2 linked regions of the Homo sapiens genome follow. The protein of the gene in region 2 binds, or shares a complex with, the protein of the main gene of each other region. Each region holds a gene or a part of one and is shown on either strand. Other genes may lie near its edges. A codon is read from its position in the direction of its gene.

Evidence for each region.
Region 1: the proteins of TRIAP1 (region 2) and PRELID1 are in contact, whole or in part, in a crystal structure (PDB 6I3V), measured with the Homo sapiens proteins. Residues at the interface, in NP_057483.1 of Homo sapiens: Met1 (codon at 4,602), Asn2 (codon at 4,605), Ser3 (codon at 4,608), Val4 (codon at 4,611), Lys12 (codon at 4,635), Tyr15 (codon at 4,644), Asp16 (codon at 4,647), Phe19 (codon at 4,656), Asn20 (codon at 4,659), Trp22 (codon at 4,665), Phe23 (codon at 4,668), Phe27 (codon at 4,680), Leu28 (codon at 4,683), Gly30 (codon at 4,689), Asp31 (codon at 4,692), Ser32 (codon at 4,695), Phe41 (codon at 4,722), Tyr44 (codon at 4,731), Gln45 (codon at 4,734), Val48 (codon at 4,743), Gln49 (codon at 4,746), Ile52 (codon at 6,025), Ile57 (codon at 6,040), Pro58 (codon at 6,043), Ile59 (codon at 6,046), Leu62 (codon at 6,055), Glu63 (codon at 6,058), Phe64 (codon at 6,061), Met65 (codon at 6,064), Gly66 (codon at 6,067); in NP_037369.1 of Homo sapiens: Trp15 (codon at 4,883), Asp16 (codon at 4,886), Phe19 (codon at 4,895), Ala20 (codon at 4,898), Trp23 (codon at 4,907), Gln24 (codon at 4,910), Tyr26 (codon at 4,916), Pro27 (codon at 4,919), Val34 (codon at 5,487), Leu35 (codon at 5,490), Thr36 (codon at 5,493), Glu37 (codon at 5,496), Asp38 (codon at 5,499), Ile39 (codon at 5,502), Val40 (codon at 5,505), His41 (codon at 5,508), Arg42 (codon at 5,511), Val44 (codon at 5,517), Gln48 (codon at 5,529), Lys49 (codon at 5,532), Leu50 (codon at 5,535), Leu51 (codon at 5,538), Ser52 (codon at 5,541), Arg53 (codon at 5,544), Leu55 (codon at 5,550), Thr57 (codon at 5,556), Tyr79 (codon at 5,622), Leu81 (codon at 5,628), Asp83 (codon at 5,634), Ser84 (codon at 5,637).

Annotation. Positions count from the first base shown.
Region 1 is NC_000005.10:177,299,146-177,306,815, forward strand, and holds the start of PRELID1 (PRELI domain-containing protein 1, mitochondrial isoform 1 precursor), read left to right. Parts: upstream 1-4,653; 5' UTR 4,654-4,840; coding exon 4,841-4,932; intron 4,933-5,479; coding exon 5,480-5,705; intron 5,706-6,353; exon of another isoform or gene 6,354-6,725; coding exon 6,726-6,839; exon of another isoform or gene 6,840-6,952; coding exon 6,953-7,031; exon of another isoform or gene 7,032-7,276; coding exon 7,277-7,425; 3' UTR 7,426-7,670. Other genes in the region: RAB24 (ras-related protein Rab-24), read right to left, coding at 2,598-2,662, 2,780-2,842, 2,983-3,033, 3,252-3,351, 3,432-3,499, 3,607-3,685, 3,864-3,932, 4,027-4,143. UniProt on the Homo sapiens protein: Involved in the modulation of the mitochondrial apoptotic pathway by ensuring the accumulation of cardiolipin (CL) in mitochondrial membranes.
Region 2 is NC_000012.12:120,443,464-120,450,973, reverse strand, and holds TRIAP1 (TP53-regulated inhibitor of apoptosis 1), read left to right. Parts: upstream 1-4,589; 5' UTR 4,590-4,601; coding exon 4,602-4,748; intron 4,749-6,018; coding exon 6,019-6,102; 3' UTR 6,103-7,010; downstream 7,011-7,510. Other genes in the region: GATC (glutamyl-tRNA(Gln) amidotransferase subunit C, mitochondrial), read right to left, coding at 4,145-4,317, 4,413-4,493. UniProt on the Homo sapiens protein: Involved in the modulation of the mitochondrial apoptotic pathway by ensuring the accumulation of cardiolipin (CL) in mitochondrial membranes.

The DNA of each region.
Region 1 (7,670 bases), on a different chromosome or scaffold from region 2:
TGAAATAAGAATAGATCATTGTTTTGTACACACACACAATAAAATGTAATGATGGTGCTAATTTCACGGTATAAATAAGCACTGCCAAGGGTTGAGGGACTGGCAGCTCAAGAAACCCGGGTTCCTGTTTGGGAGGAGATTTTATGTAGAAAAGTTTGAGGCTTTGTTAAAAGTGGGGAGAAGGAAGATCCTCAGTGAAGCCTGCACCCAACCCTGGAGTGGCCCAGTGCAATCCAGAGGTGGAAGAGATCCTATATCCAGGTGAAGGTGGCCATTGAGTTTCTCAGGGCTGGGGCCACCTTGTCCATAGCCTCCGTCCACGCTGCCTGGAGCAGGTTGTTAGAGAGCTCTGGTTGTTGGGTCTTCCTCAGCTCCCTTCTGCCCCTCTCTACCTCTTCCACTCATGGAAGCCCCTCTACTGCTTATGAAGATTAAGGGTAGTATTTTCTAAGGAAGTGGAAAGAATTAAACTAGAAATCCACAACCTCGGAAGAAGTGTTTCGAGTTTAACATGCGCTGTTTCTGCTTATGTGGTTCCTTCTCTAGAGCTGCTTTCCCATGGCTTTCAAAACATCAGGTTATTGTGGGGCTTCAGGTGTAAGGTCCTGGAAGTTCAGCAAAGTTTCGTGGACAAGACATGGGCACAGAGAGTAGAAGCAGAAATAAATGGTTCTATGTTTTCAACTTCCAGGGTTGGGGCAGGCCAGAGCAAGGCGGTCTCATCGAGGTGGGTGCTACCTGTGTGTGTGTAGATGAGTGTGCTGAAGGTGGGGAGGGCAGCACACAGCAGCTCATGGCAGAGCCGCCTCCTAGGTCTTGGCAAAGAGGCAAGCTGACGATAGACATCTACCTATATTGTTAAGAAAGGGGTCGGGGGGATCAGCCAAGGTCCATCATTGCTTTTTTGCCGCGCCCCCCCCCCCCCGCCCCCATAGATTGTCAGCTGTAAGTGAAACTCCTAGTGAAAAAGAGGGGAGCCCTGTGTTAGGAGTCCCCATAAACATGTACTGTAATTCTTTGTATATAGAAAAAAAATTTACTGTAAAGTAAAGTTTAACTTTACTCATATATGGCCCTTGCCCTGTGTTTTGTTTTATTGGCTGTGGGGAGTTGTAGTCTAACAGGAGGGAGGATTGTTTGGGGTGAGAGCAGAAGCCAGCCCCAGAGATAGTACGAGGTGGGGGGCGGGGGGCGCAGGGATACTGTGAAGCTAAGCCCTTCCTCCAAGCACGTCATGGGAATAGTGTGTTTCCTCTCAGCAGCCACAGGGCTGCCCAAGCCTCTTTCTCCCTCTGTTGGGAGTGGCTGGTTTCAGTTTCAGTCTCCCTCCACAGGAAGCCCCCATCACTCATGAAGGAAGGGCAGTTTGAGGAATTGGTTTTTAAAAAGGAAGTGGAACCAAAGCACTCTCTGAGTGTGAGTCTGACCATGTTGGCTAAGTTGTACATTTTTCCAAGGCAGGTGTTGGCCACTGCAGAGGACTCAGCCCAGGCCTAAATAAAGGCAGGAAAGCAGAGGCAAAGGATAAAACTAAGGGAAAGCCCCTGGCCTGGGGCCACACCCTCCATACCAGAAAGGGCTGCAATAAATTTCCTTCTGGTTGAGCAGCAAGTGTCAGCCCTGTTTACAGTTAACACCTGATTCCTCAGAAATATCTGGATCTTCTTTGGGGAAAACTTGGGAGTTTGCTTCCCTTTGTGACCTAGTCCTGAACTTCCTGCCCTTTCAGCAAAAAGTGCTTGGGAAGATTGGGAAAAACATTTAGTACTAGAGTTACTCTTCACTTTCTTCACAATCCTTGGGCTGCATAGTAGTCACCTTATTTTACAGATGAGAAACTCAAGATGAGGATTTAAGTCCCTTTTCTAAATTAGCAGCTGAATTGGAACCAAATCTGGATCCATTAGACCTTTCTGGCTTACAGAACTTAGGACTTTCCTACCATTAAACCACATTGTAGGATGTCACTGGGAAGCTCAGGACCTGAGTCACAGGTCTGACATAGGGGCCCAAACATGACAGATGCAGTAGAGCTAGTCAGACCAACCTGTCTCAGGTAGGAATGCTTGACCCTTTTATTTCGAAGCAACTCATGCACTCTTTTCAGCACTCAGAAGGAACTGTGAGCTTTTATACTACTACAGCCCCAGTATCTCAGCGGTAACCATGGGGAAAAAAGTCTTGTTTTCCAAAGGAAAATGAGAGTTGGGAGGAGCCTTAATATAAGCAGTGAGGCCAGCCGGGTGGCCCCAGGAAGAACTAGGTGTCTTGACACCTAATCCACACAGCAGGGAAAGGGGCTGGGTGTGATGCACAGTGCACTGATTTTATTTACAGATCAAAAGCCACTTAAATAATCTGCAGACACAAGTGCTGTCCAGGGCAGAAGCCTGGGGTCCAAATCAGCCTTATCCCTCCTCATGCCCACAGTCAGCCCAATGCTGTCTCCGTTCCATGGGCCAGCACAGGCAGGCGCCACTCTGCTGACATGAGGACCTGGGGTAGCTCAGACATTTGACTACCCAAGCCCAGAAAGGAGCTGGGTCCAGCCCTTACGGGGAATTCCTTTAATTCCCCCAGGCCAGGTGAGTGCTGACTCAGTGATGACAACAGCTGTAGAAGTAGGGGTTTGGCTTCTGGCCCAGATCCACGCCCTTGTCCTCTGTCAAAAAGAGAGGTGGCAGCTCAGCACCATTCTGTTGGGATCAGGTAACTCAGGAAAGGGGCTAGATGCTGTGGGCCTAGAGTAAGTCTCCATAAAGGCTGGGGAAGCACACACCTGTCATCACCTGGAAGGCAGCCACACTGACGTAATCCTCTGCCACTTTCTGGAAGAGCTCGTCTGGCAGGAAAAATGATGATCAGCGAGGGCCCAATGCCAGTAGCCCTGGGATCTCCCAGTGACCCAGCCCTCTGTGCCCTATTCAGCTTCCTCTGGTGCCCCTGCATGTTCCTGCTGTGAGGCTCCAGCACAGCACTCACCCACACTCTGGCCTGTCTTGCTGGATGTTTCAAAGAGCTGAGCTTTGATATCTGTAAAGAGAAGTGACTAAAGCCTCATACCTGAGAATTAGATAAACAGACAAAAGGGAGGGCTAGCAGTTCAGGGAGTCTCCTGGACCCCACAGTTCAAGGAGGCCAGGAAGACCTCCTAGAGCACCTTGCCCTGGCAGCCAAGGCAGTCCCTATTTTCTTTGATCCACCCAGACAGCCACACACCCCCACCCCCCAAAGGGCTGAGGAGCAGCTACTGTCTGCATAGTCCTGGACGTCGTGGAAGTCCACACGTCGACGCCTCCGGTCTTCTTCCAGCAGGTCACTCTTGGTGCCACATAAGTAGATTTGGCAGCCCTGAGGCAGAAGACAAGGGTCACCTCCACAGGCCAACAAAACCCCAGCCCCTAGTGTTCTAGTGAGGTCTGTTCACCTACCTCCTCTAGGCTGCGCAGTTCCTTCACCCAGAACTTTGCTCGCTCAAAGCTGCTGCTGTCTGTGAGGTCTTGGTGTGCGGCATGCAGGAGACAACCAAGTGGTCAAGGGCTGTTCTCTGGCTAGCCTGGCACCCATCTTTTCTTGTGAGACAGCCCAAACCCCCCCCCCCCTTACCATAGCAGACGATGGCAGCCTTGGCACCCCGATAGTAGATTCTACTCATGGCCTCATAGCGCTCAGAGCCTGCTGTGTCCTAAAGAGTAAGGCCTGAGTCAAACTTAAGGCCACGTTCTCCAGACCCCGCTATTTTCCAGATAAGGAAACGGGTCTATGAGAAATGGGTCTGTGAGGCCACAAATCAACCAGTAATAGGCAGGACCTACACCTCCTCAGGAATGAGTCTCCCAAGAATAGATGGCCGGGGGACTTACCCAAATACCTAATGTCACAGTCCGGTCTCCGACCGACATCACCTTGGCCACGAAGGCGGCCCCGATGGTCTGCAACGAGAGGGAAGAGATCGGGGCCATAGGTGCAGATTACCGGCCCCCCACTCCCCCGCCCACCGTGCCTGGCCCCTCCGGATGCACTCACGTTCTGATAAGGCCCCACCAGAAAGCGGTCGTGCACGTAGCGCTCCACCAGGCTAGTCTTGCCCACGTACTCCTTGCCCAGCATCACCACCTTGACGTCCACGCGCTGCCCGCTCATGCTCCCGGGGCCGCTTCAGCCACGTCAGGGTCCTGAGCGGGGACGGGAGGCAAACCCCGATCTCCGCTCGGCCCAGGCAGCGCCCAAGCCTCAGACCCCGACCCCAAACGGCGCCAACCTACGACTCCAGACAGCGCGTCGGGCTCGAGCTCTGGCCGTGGCCTTGCACTTCGGCAGCGCCCCGTGTGCCCCCGCTGTTCGGCCCCGGGCGCCGATTATCCTTCGAAGACCCCAAGCCTCGGGGCGGCCTGGGAGCGCGCGGGACAGCGTCCTCAACAGCGCAGCACGCCGCCGTGCAGCTCGCTACTCCGTCATTCGCTCGCCTGCCCGGCTTAAGCTCCGTTCTGGCTGGGAATCCCAACCGAACCTGGGGTCTCCCGCAACCCGGCTCCTACCCGCAGCGCCGCGACTCCCGCGGGAGGGGGCTAGAGGGCGAGGGGGCGGGGCCGCAAGGTCACGTGGCGCGGGCGCCGGAAGCGGTGGCTACTGTGTGGCTGCGCCGGAAGTGGCGCGCGGCCGGACAACTCATGGCGGCGGCGGCGGCGGCGGCAGCTGCTTGGGCGCGGTGCGGTGGTGACTGAGCTACGAGCCTGGCGGCGGGTGTGCGCCGAGCCCCGGCCCGGCCCGGCCCTCGCGTGCCTCCCAGGCTCCGCACCCCTGATGCTGCGCGGGTGCTGAGCCCGCTTCGGCCGGGACGATGGTGAAGTATTTCCTGGGCCAGAGCGTGCTCCGGAGTTCCTGGGACCAAGTGTTCGCCGCCTTCTGGCAGCGGTACCCGAATCCCTATAGGTACGTGGTATTTGGAAGAGCAAAACCGCGCCATCTCGCTATCTGGAGATCGAATTATGGGTAACCCCCAAGTACTGGGACCAGGAAGGACTCGATATCGAATCCTAGGTAGACCTTATCGGGGAAGCGGCCAGGCCAGGCCTGCAAGGTCCTGAAGGGAGGTTGGGCCTGGGTGGTGGTTTACTTGAGACCTTAGTGTAAGATTCTTTTCTCAGTGTGGTGAGACAAGAAGAGGCGGCAGTATGGGAGTTGGGAGGGATCTTGGAGTTGGAAATCCTATTTCTCTGCCCGTGGCGCTTTCCTGGGGTGCAATAAATCATGAGGTCCATTCCTGCTAGAAGGCAGGAATCCAGGTCAGTCAGATGGCGGGAGTGGGAATTTGCCCTGGGATGGGCCCTTAACTCTGGTTTGAACCATAGCACATACCACCCTGCAAGGTTACGGGAAGGCGTGGCCTCTCTAGGCCCGGAGCCTCCAAATGGGAATCCCCTCGGGCAGTCTCTTAGGGGCAAGCTTCTGAGGGTCACCTTCACCCTGACACCTGCAGCAAACATGTCTTGACGGAAGACATAGTACACCGGGAGGTGACCCCTGACCAGAAACTGCTGTCCCGGCGACTCCTGACCAAGACCAACAGGATGCCACGCTGGGCCGAGCGACTATTTCCTGCCAATGTTGCTCACTCGGTGTACGTCCTGGAGGACTCTATTGTGGACCCACAGAATCAGACCATGACTACCTTCACCTGGAACATCAACCACGCCCGGCTGATGGTGAGACACCTCCTGTTGTGATTCTGCACCTCCCCCTCTCCCCTCCCCCCGAGATAGAGAGCTCCTCAGATACATGTGGCTAGAGAGCCATAAGGCAGCTTTTGTGGCCGGAGGCAGGTCTGGGTTACTGAGGGTTGACAGCTGTAGAGTATGACCTCAGGTTTTCTTCTTTTCAGCTGGCCATCCTCTCTGGACCTGTCCTTTGACTCATTCATACAGTGGGGGAGGGGTACCTATCTTACGGAGTTGTCCTAAGTTCTAAATGCAAAGCGCTCCCATCTGGCATCTATGGCACAGATATATGTTGGACTCACAGGAGTGATGCTGAGTGGCGGAGGCAGTGCTTTTCTTTTTTTTTTTTCTGTTTTTTGTTTTTTTCTGGTGACAAGAGTCTCACCCAGGTTGGAGTGTAGTGACATGATCTCACCTCACTGCCACTGCCACCTCCTGGGTTTAAGCAATTCTCGTGCCTCAGCCTTCTGAAGAGGTGGATTTCTAAGCACACACCACCACGCCTGGCTAATTTTTGTATTTTTAGTACAGACAAGGTTTTACCATGTTGGCCAGGCTGGTCTCGAACTCCTAACCTCAAGTGATCCGCCCGCCTCGGCCTCCCAAAGTGCTAAGATTACAGGCGTGAGCCACCGCGCCGGGCAAATGTTTTTATTTGGACTGTCAGGAAGCTCCAGAGCTGCAGCTGGTGGAAGGCGGCTAAAACACTGCATGCGTCTAGATGCACAAAACAAAATCCAGGAGCAGGATGGGCTGGAAGGCCCTTTGTTGATCTCAAGAGAGAGACCTTTTGCCTTCTAGTTTAAGAGTCAGAAGAGAGGTTTTCGAGAGCAAAACGACCTTATTTATGGCTTCTTGTTCTGTCAGTGCCACTTGGAGGTGCAGTCAGGGGAAGGAATGGATTTTCATTGTATTGCTTCGCCTCATGAAAAGTGACAGGGAGTCAGATTTATGTGCAAGTTGGCAAAATGAAAGACTGTTCCACGATTGTGGTTGGCCTCTGCATAGGTGGTGGAGGAACGATGTGTTTACTGTGTGAACTCTGACAACAGTGGCTGGACTGAAATCCGCCGGGAAGCCTGGGTCTCCTCTAGCTTATTTGGTGTCTCCAGAGCTGTCCAGGTGAGCAGTGTTGTTGGGGCTGCTGGGGCTCTGGGACCCAGTGCTTTCGGTGTTGGGGCTGGGCTGGGGTCAGTGGGCAACTCAGTATCCTTCCCATTCTCATCTCATGCCAGGAATTTGGTCTTGCCCGATTCAAAAGCAACGTGACCAAGACTATGAAGGGTTTTGAATATATCTTGGCTAAGCTGCAAGGTGAGTTTCTGGGTATGTGGATATTCCTCATAGGGAGAGGCTCATTCAGCCTAGCGGGCGTGGAGTCTGGGTTAGTCATTGCCCTGCTCTGAGCTGGGACTCCTTGTCTGTACTGGGGGTGGGAGGAGGGTGAATACCACCTTTTTAGTGGAGCCTGGCCCAGAGGAGATTGGTGTCATGGGGGAGGGAAATTAGGTTGGTCTTTCAGGCATCTTCTAAAGGCAGCCACCTGCCGTTCGCGACAGGCGAGGCCCCTTCCAAAACACTTGTTGAGACAGCCAAGGAAGCCAAGGAGAAGGCAAAGGAGACGGCACTGGCAGCTACAGAGAAGGCCAAGGACCTCGCCAGCAAGGCGGCCACCAAGAAGCAGCAGCAGCAGCAACAGTTTGTGTAGCCAGTCTACCACCACCACAGCACCCCAGACAGCTAGGCTTAGCCTCTCTGCCCTCCCTTCATTGTACTTTATCATTAAAAATCAACTTCCAGCCCTGTCTGCTGTCTACGTGGTGGGTTGTGGGGATGCAGTTTGGCATCTGCAGTACACCAAGCACATGATTCATGTCTGAGCCAGGTCTGCTTATTCTCCCATTGGGCAGCTGAGGACCGAGGCACAGAGGTGCGGTGACTTGCCCGGGGCTC
Region 2 (7,510 bases):
AACAGGGTTTCGCCATGTTGGCCAGGCTGGTCTCGAACTCCTGACCTAAAGTGATCTGCCTGCCTCGGCCTCCCAAAATGCTGGGATTACAGGAGTGAGCCATTATGCCCGGCCAAGTCAGGGCTTTTATAGCTAAGATGCCTACTACCTAAAACATTTAAGCAACTTGGCCTCCTGCAAAGAAGGATGGTGAGAAGAATGGCCATTATGCCATCAACTAGGTGGTGACCCAAGAGTACACCATTAATATTCACAAGTGTATCCATGGAGTGGGCTTCAAGAAGTGTGCCCCTCAGGCTCTTAAAGAGACCGGAAATTTGCAATGAAGGAGATAGAAAACTCCAGATATGTGTATTGATACCAGGCTCAACAAAGCTGTCTGGGCCAAAGTAGTAAGGAATGTCCATACTGTGTCCATGTGCAGTGGATGGTCCAGAAAACATAATGAGGTTAGAAATTCACCAAATAAGCTCTATACTTTGGTTATATACTTGTTACCACTTTCACAAATCTACAGTCAGTGTGGATGGGAACTAACTGCTGATCATCAAATACATCAAATGAAGTTATAAAAACTACAAAAAAATAAAAAATAAAAGGTTTAATACTTGTCTTCACTTTACATTCTGTGTGTTCAAAGCATTAAAGTCCTACAGATGTCACATTAAAATGATTAATGGGAATTATTAACCCAAACTGGTTTCCAAATTTATGAAAAACAGTACAGATCACTGAATACGAGGTTGAGATGCTAGCTACTGGATCCAAATTCCTCATCTTTTTTCACGACCTTTTCCCTTATTAATGATGGTTATATTTCTTTGTATTTACCCTCTAGATAACTTGGGGAAATTCTGATGACTCTGTGCTTCTAGTCCCTCCTTTCCTAGAGATATTAATAAAGAACACTGGGACCGGGCATGGTGGCTCATGCCTGTAATCCCAGCACTTTGGGAGGCCAAGGTGGGCAGATCACCTGAGGTCGGGAGTTTGAGACCAGCCTGACCAACATGGAGAAACCCTGTCTCTACTAAAAATACAAAATTAGCTGGGCGTGGTGGCGTGCACCTGTAATCCCAGCTACTTGGGAGGCTGAGGCAGGAGAATCGCTTGAACCTGGGAGGCAGAGGTTGTGGTGAGCTGAGATCGCGCCATTGCACTCCAGCCTGGGCAACGTGAGCAAAACTCTGTCTCTAAAAAAAAAAAAATTCATTAAACATTTACTGTGGCCGGGCACGGCAGCTCAAGGCTGTATTCCCAGCACTTTGGGAGGCTGAGGCAGGCAGATCACCTGAGGTCAGGAGTTCAAGACGAGCCTTGCCAACATGGTGAAACCCCTCTCTACTAAAAATACAAAAATTAACCAGGCATGGTGGTGCATGCCTGTAATCCCGGGTGCTCGGGAAGCTGAGGCAAGAGAATCTCAAACCCAGGAGGCAGAGGTTGCAGTGAGCCGAGATCACGCCACTGCCTCCAGCGTGGGCAACAGAGTGAGACTCCATCTCAAAAAAACAAAACAAAACAAAACAAAACACATTTACTGAATACTCAGTGCCAACCACTGAGAACATGATAAGGAAAAACAGACATGCTGTGGAAGGTGGGTGAGCAGGAGAGGGGCAGAGACTCAACACATCCCTTAAATAGATGTATAAACGCATGTATAAATCAGCCCTTTTGGATATCACGAGAGCCACAGGTAGAGAACCTAAGTATAGCCAGGCACAGTGGCTCACGCCTGTAATCAGCACCTTTGGGAGGCTGAGGTGGGCAGATCACGAGGTCAGGAGATCGAGACCATCTTGGCTACGGTGAAACCTCATCTCTACTAAAAATACAAAAAATTAGCCAGGCGTGGTAGTGGGCACTTGTAGACCCAGCTACTTGGGAGGCTGAGGCAGGAGAATGGCATGAACCCAGGAGGCGGAACTTGCAGTGAGCCAAGATCACGCCACTGCACTCCAGCCTCAGCGACAGAGCGAGACTCTTGTCTCAATTAAAAAAAAAAAAAAAGAACCTAAGTATAAAAGAATGAAGACTTGTGGCTCACGCCTATAATCCCAGCACTTTGGGAGGCCGAGGCGGGTGGACTGTGAGGTCATGAGTTCGAGACCAGCCTGGCCAACATGGTGAAACCCCGTCTCTATTAAAAATACAAAAATTAGCTGGGCGTGGTGGCGGGCGCCTGTAGTCCCAGCTACTCGGGAGGCTGAGGCAAGAGAATCACTTGAAACCGGAAGGTGGAGGTTGCAGTGAGCTGAGATTGCACCACTGTACTCCAGCCTGGGTGGAAGAGTGAAACTCCGTCTCAAAAAAAAAAAAAAAAAAAAAGGAATGGACTTTTTTGGCCAGTGCAGTGACTCATACCTGTAATCCCAGCACTTTGGGAGGCGAAGATGGGCGGATCACTTGAGGCCAGGGGTTCGAGACCAGCCTGGTCAACATGGTGAAACCCTGTCTCTACTAAAAATGCAAAAACTAGCTGAGTGTGGTGGCGGGTGCCTGTAATCCCAGCTACTCCGGAGGCTGAGGCACAAAAATCACTTGAACCTGGAGGGTGGAGGTTGCAGTGAGCCAAGATCATGCCACTGCACTCCAGCCTGGGTGATGGGGCAGGACTCCACCTCAAAAAAAAAAAAAAACTTTCTTGAGGAAGTGGGAGGCTGAGGCAGGAGGATTGCTTGAGACCAGGAGTTTGAGACCATATGGGGCAACATGGCAAGACCCCGTTTCTACAAAAATTTTAAGTATTAGCCAGGTGTGGTGGTGCACACCTATAGTCCCAGCTATTTGGGAGGCTGAGGCAGGAGGATCTCTTGAGTCTAGAAGTTTGCGACCAGCCTGGGCAACATAGTGAGACCCCGTCCCAAAGGAAAAAGAAAATTGCAAAGTAGAGAAGACATTTGAAAGAATCAAACACGGCCAGGTGCTGTGGCTCATGCCTGTAATCCCAGTACTTTAGGAGGCTGAGATGGGTGGATCACCTTTGCTCAGGAGTCCAGACAAGCCTGGGGAACATGGCAAAATCCCGTCTCTATCAAAAATACAAAAAATTAGCCAGGCCAAGTGGCACGCGCCTGTGGTCCTGTACTTGGGAGGCTGAGATGGGAGGCTCTCTTGAGTCTGGGAGGTGGACATTACAATGAGCTGAGATCATGCCACTGCACTCTAACCTGGGTGATAGAGTGAGACTCCATCTCAAAAACAAATAAAATAAAAATTCAAGGCAGGAATAAAACAGTAACTACATAATGAGCTCACATTTTAATAAAAGAGATATAACAAATGAACAAAAGTCCATTAAAATGTTAGGGAAAAAACCCAATAGGATGAGTTACTAACTAGAAGGGGAGAAGGGATTTGGAGTGGTTAGGAGAGCCCTTTCTGAGAAGATAAGCTGAGACCTGTGCCAAGAGGGAGGCAGCCATGCAAATACTGAGAGGAAGGAAAAAAACGAAGGGCCAGTGCAGAGATCTAGAGAGGAAAAGAACTTGTCTTGCTGGAGAAGCAGTCAAGGTAGCCAAGGAGAGTACTGAGAAGAGTACGTTGGAGTGAGTAGGTAGGGACTCTATGGAGTAGGGCCTTAAAGGCGATGATTAGGCCAGGCGCGGTGGCTCACACCTGTAATCCCAGCACTTTGGGAGGCCGAGGCGGGTGGATCACGGTCAGGAGTTCAAGACCAACCTGGCCAAGATGGTGAAACCACGTCTCTACTAAAAATACAAAAAAAATAAGCCGGGCCTGGTGGCAGTCGCCTGTAATCCCAGCTACTCGGGAGGCTGAGGCAGAGAATTGCTTGAACACGGGAGGCGGAGGTTGCAGTGAGCCGAGATCGAGCCACTGCACTCCAGCCTAGGCAACACAGCGAGACTCCGTCTCAAAAAAAAAAAAACAAAACAAACAAACAAAAAAAAAAACAAAGGCAGTGATTAGCAGTTCGGGTTTTGTTTCCACTTACACTAGCGAGAGCATCAGTAATGAACAAGGGGAAGAGTGAAGCCACTGACTCGCGAGGTGACTGTGGGCAAGTTCCTGAATCTTGCTAACACTCTTTAACCCCCTGGAAAACTGTTCGCTAATCGTCACATTAAACGGCTGCGAACGGGCCACGGTCAAGGCTTCGGGGCTGCAGCCGCGAGTTTACCTGTCCTCCAGGACCGATTCCATGGGCTCCACCCCGTCTGTGTCCACGGCGCGTAGCCGGTCGGCGAAGGCGATAGCTTTCTCCAGTCGCGCCACTGCCTCGCGGCTGCCGAAGTCCACAAGCGCTAGACGCTCCAGGTGCTCGATCACCGCAGCCGTGATCCGGCCACTGCCCTGGAGGAGGGATGAGGCGGGGAGTGTGGGTCACCGGCGCTCCGAAGTGCCTCCCGGCTTGCTCCGCCACCCGCCTAGATGGCCCTGGCCTTTACCTGAGGATCCGCCTTGGAGGTGAAGCCCTGGCGCCCGCCCAGAGGGGCCCGAAGGCCCAGCCACACCAACCGCGACCACATTTCTTCCTTCCTTGGCCCCCGCAGTGCGCCCGCGCGTAACGCCGAGCGACGCGCCTGAGAGTGATGACATCAGAGTGCGCCGTCGTCGCCGCCGCCACCACTGTCGCCATGAACAGTGTGGGGGAGGCATGCACGGACATGAAGCGCGAGTACGACCAGTGCTTCAATCGCTGGTTCGCCGAGAAATTTCTCAAGGGGGACAGCTCCGGGGACCCGTGCACCGACCTCTTCAAGCGCTACCAGCAGTGTGTTCAGGTGAGCCCTCCCGCCTCTGTTCCCAGGCCCTGCATTCTCGGCGCTGTGTCCCACCACACTCATCGTATTTTACGGGGATTGGGACTGGACTGGAAGGGTGGAGAAAAGTCGCAGTGAGGCCAGTGGCAGGAGCTCGCTCCCCTACCATCACCACCGAGGCCACTTGGGTGTCTCTCCGAATGACAAATATTGGGGCAGTGCTTTTCAAGAAGCACAGTCACATCCTTTGGTTCATTTGGTGTTCACCCTAAACTCGCAAGGTGGGCATAGTTACTCATATTTTATACATAAAAAACTAACACCCAGAAATAGGAAGTGATTAATCCGAGTTCACTAGCATCAGGTTTCCTTGGTTCTTTCGCAGGTGGTGCACTTTTCCACTATTACTGCTGGGGTCTGGGCGGGATTATACTTCAGAATTCAGACTGGAGGGTCACATTTTTTTGTTGTTATAAACCCTTCGTTAGCCTGTTTCTCTCTCTTGACCAGTCCCCGCAACTGCAGCCAGGAAATGTTTATTCTGGCCCAATGGATGTGGAACTGCTTTGAATTGTTAAGAACAGCACCGGGCAAAGCACTTCCAATAAGTTAACCCAACACATCCTCACAGCAATTCCCCGAGGTAGTTGCTGTCTTCATCCCATTTACAGTTAGTCACATAGCCAGTAAGTCCTGGAACCCAGATTTGAACCTAAGTCTTTCACTAACACAAAGTGATGATTATTTTTCAAATTTCACTTAATTTTAACGGTTCCCTCACAACTCCTTTTCCAGTCTCCCTCAGGTCTTACACTTGATTTATTCATTATGGTACTTCTGGTTTTTATTTATTTTTGAGGCAGAGTCTCACTCTGTCTCCCAGCCTGGAGTGCAATGGCACAATCTCAGCTCACTGCAACCTCCGCCTCCCAGGTTCAAGCTATTCTCATGCCTCAGCCACCCGAGTAGCTGGGCTTACAGGCATGCGCCACCATGCCCAGCTAATTTTTGTATTTTTAGTATAAACAGGGTCTCGCCATGTTGGCCAGGTTGGTCTCTAACTTCTGGCCTCAAGTGATCCACCTGCCTTGGTCTCCCAAAATGCTGCGATTATAGGCGTGAGCCACCACACCTGACCGGTACTTGTTTTTTAAAAAGTATGTGGTTTGAATCATGGTTATAAGTCTTTATAATCAGCTTGATTTTACTTTTGTACTGTCATATTTTATTTACAAAGCTTGCAACTTAAGCTTCATGTAGGTCTTTATAATGTGTTTTCTCCTCCTACCAGAAAGCAATAAAGGAGAAAGAGATTCCTATTGAAGGACTGGAGTTCATGGGCCATGGCAAAGAAAAGCCTGAAAATTCTTCTTGACCTTGACAGTCACCTTGAAGGATTTCGCAAGTCCAGAAATTGAGGACTCTGGATTTTTGTCAACTAACTCTGTGAACATAGCCATCAGATTTGATGAGGAACTTAGGAGAGAGGAGTTTTATTTCCTCCTTCGATGTTTTCCTCTCAGTTGTAAAAGATGAACTCTTTGAGATGATTTCTCACCTGCTGTGGTATCTTGCAGGAACTGTGTGCTAAAATTGAACAATTTTTTTGAGATTATGGTTGCAATACTTGGCGTGGAATCAGCTTTACATAAATATACCTTGTATGCAAACGATGATAAACTAGTCAGGATGAGCAGAGCTGCCTGACCTCTTGATTTCTGCTGCAAAAGACATATACACTGTACTGGGGTCACTATTTATGAAAGCAATTGGTTAGGACCTCTTTTTTTCCTCTCAGGGAACTAATGCTCTGAAAAGGGATCTGGGCACAACAGTTTCAGTGAGTGCTTTTGAGCACACTTTTATTTTTATATAGTAACTAATGGTTAAGATTGATGGTGGCCTGGATTAGCAAAGAGGAAGACAGCTTTTAACACAGTTCCCTGCCTTCACAAGAGGTGTCAGATTAAGATGTGAAAGCTGCAAGAATGTTGCAGTGAACACCATTTCAGAGCTCTCAGTGTGCAGTTCAGGAATTAAGATACTTGGAATAGCTGTGGAGGAAGAACCTAAATTGCAAAGATCTGCTATTGCCAGCTCTCAACCCAAGTCAGTGAATTGTCAACCTGCATATCCTAAAAATGTCAAAATGCTGCATCTGGTTAAATGTCGGGGTAGGGGGGAAGCTGAAGGTGCTCGCTTCATTTGCCTTGTTTACTCATCCTGCCCTGTAATGTCTGTAATCCTGAAGATGGAATAAATTGTAACATTTAGTTTCTATCATTATTTGCCTCTGGAACTCAGTGCATTTTATGGAACTATTACCCTGTTACCCTACAAACCTCATATATACAGTGGGGAGAGTTTTGTGTTTTGTAACTTAAAGGTGAAGAAAAAGTGACTTGTCTTAAGCTAGGTGGTACAGTATGGCAATCAGAAACCTCACATTTTTTTTTTTTGAGACAGTCTGGTTCTGTCACCCAGGCTGGAGTGCAGTGGCGCAATCTTGTCTTACTGCAAACTCCACCTCCTGGGTTCCAATGATTCTCCTGCCTCAGTCTCCCAAGTAGCTGGGATTACAGGCATGCATCACCATGCCCAGCTAGTTTTTGTATTTTTAGTAGAGATGGGGTTTCACCATGTTGGCTGGTCTTGAACTCTTGACCTCCCGAAGTGCTGGGATTACAGGCATGAGCCACCGCACCCAGCCAAAACCTCACTGATTTCTAAAATTTCCACAATAGGCTATACAAATACACTACGGTACCAAAAAAGGATCAGGA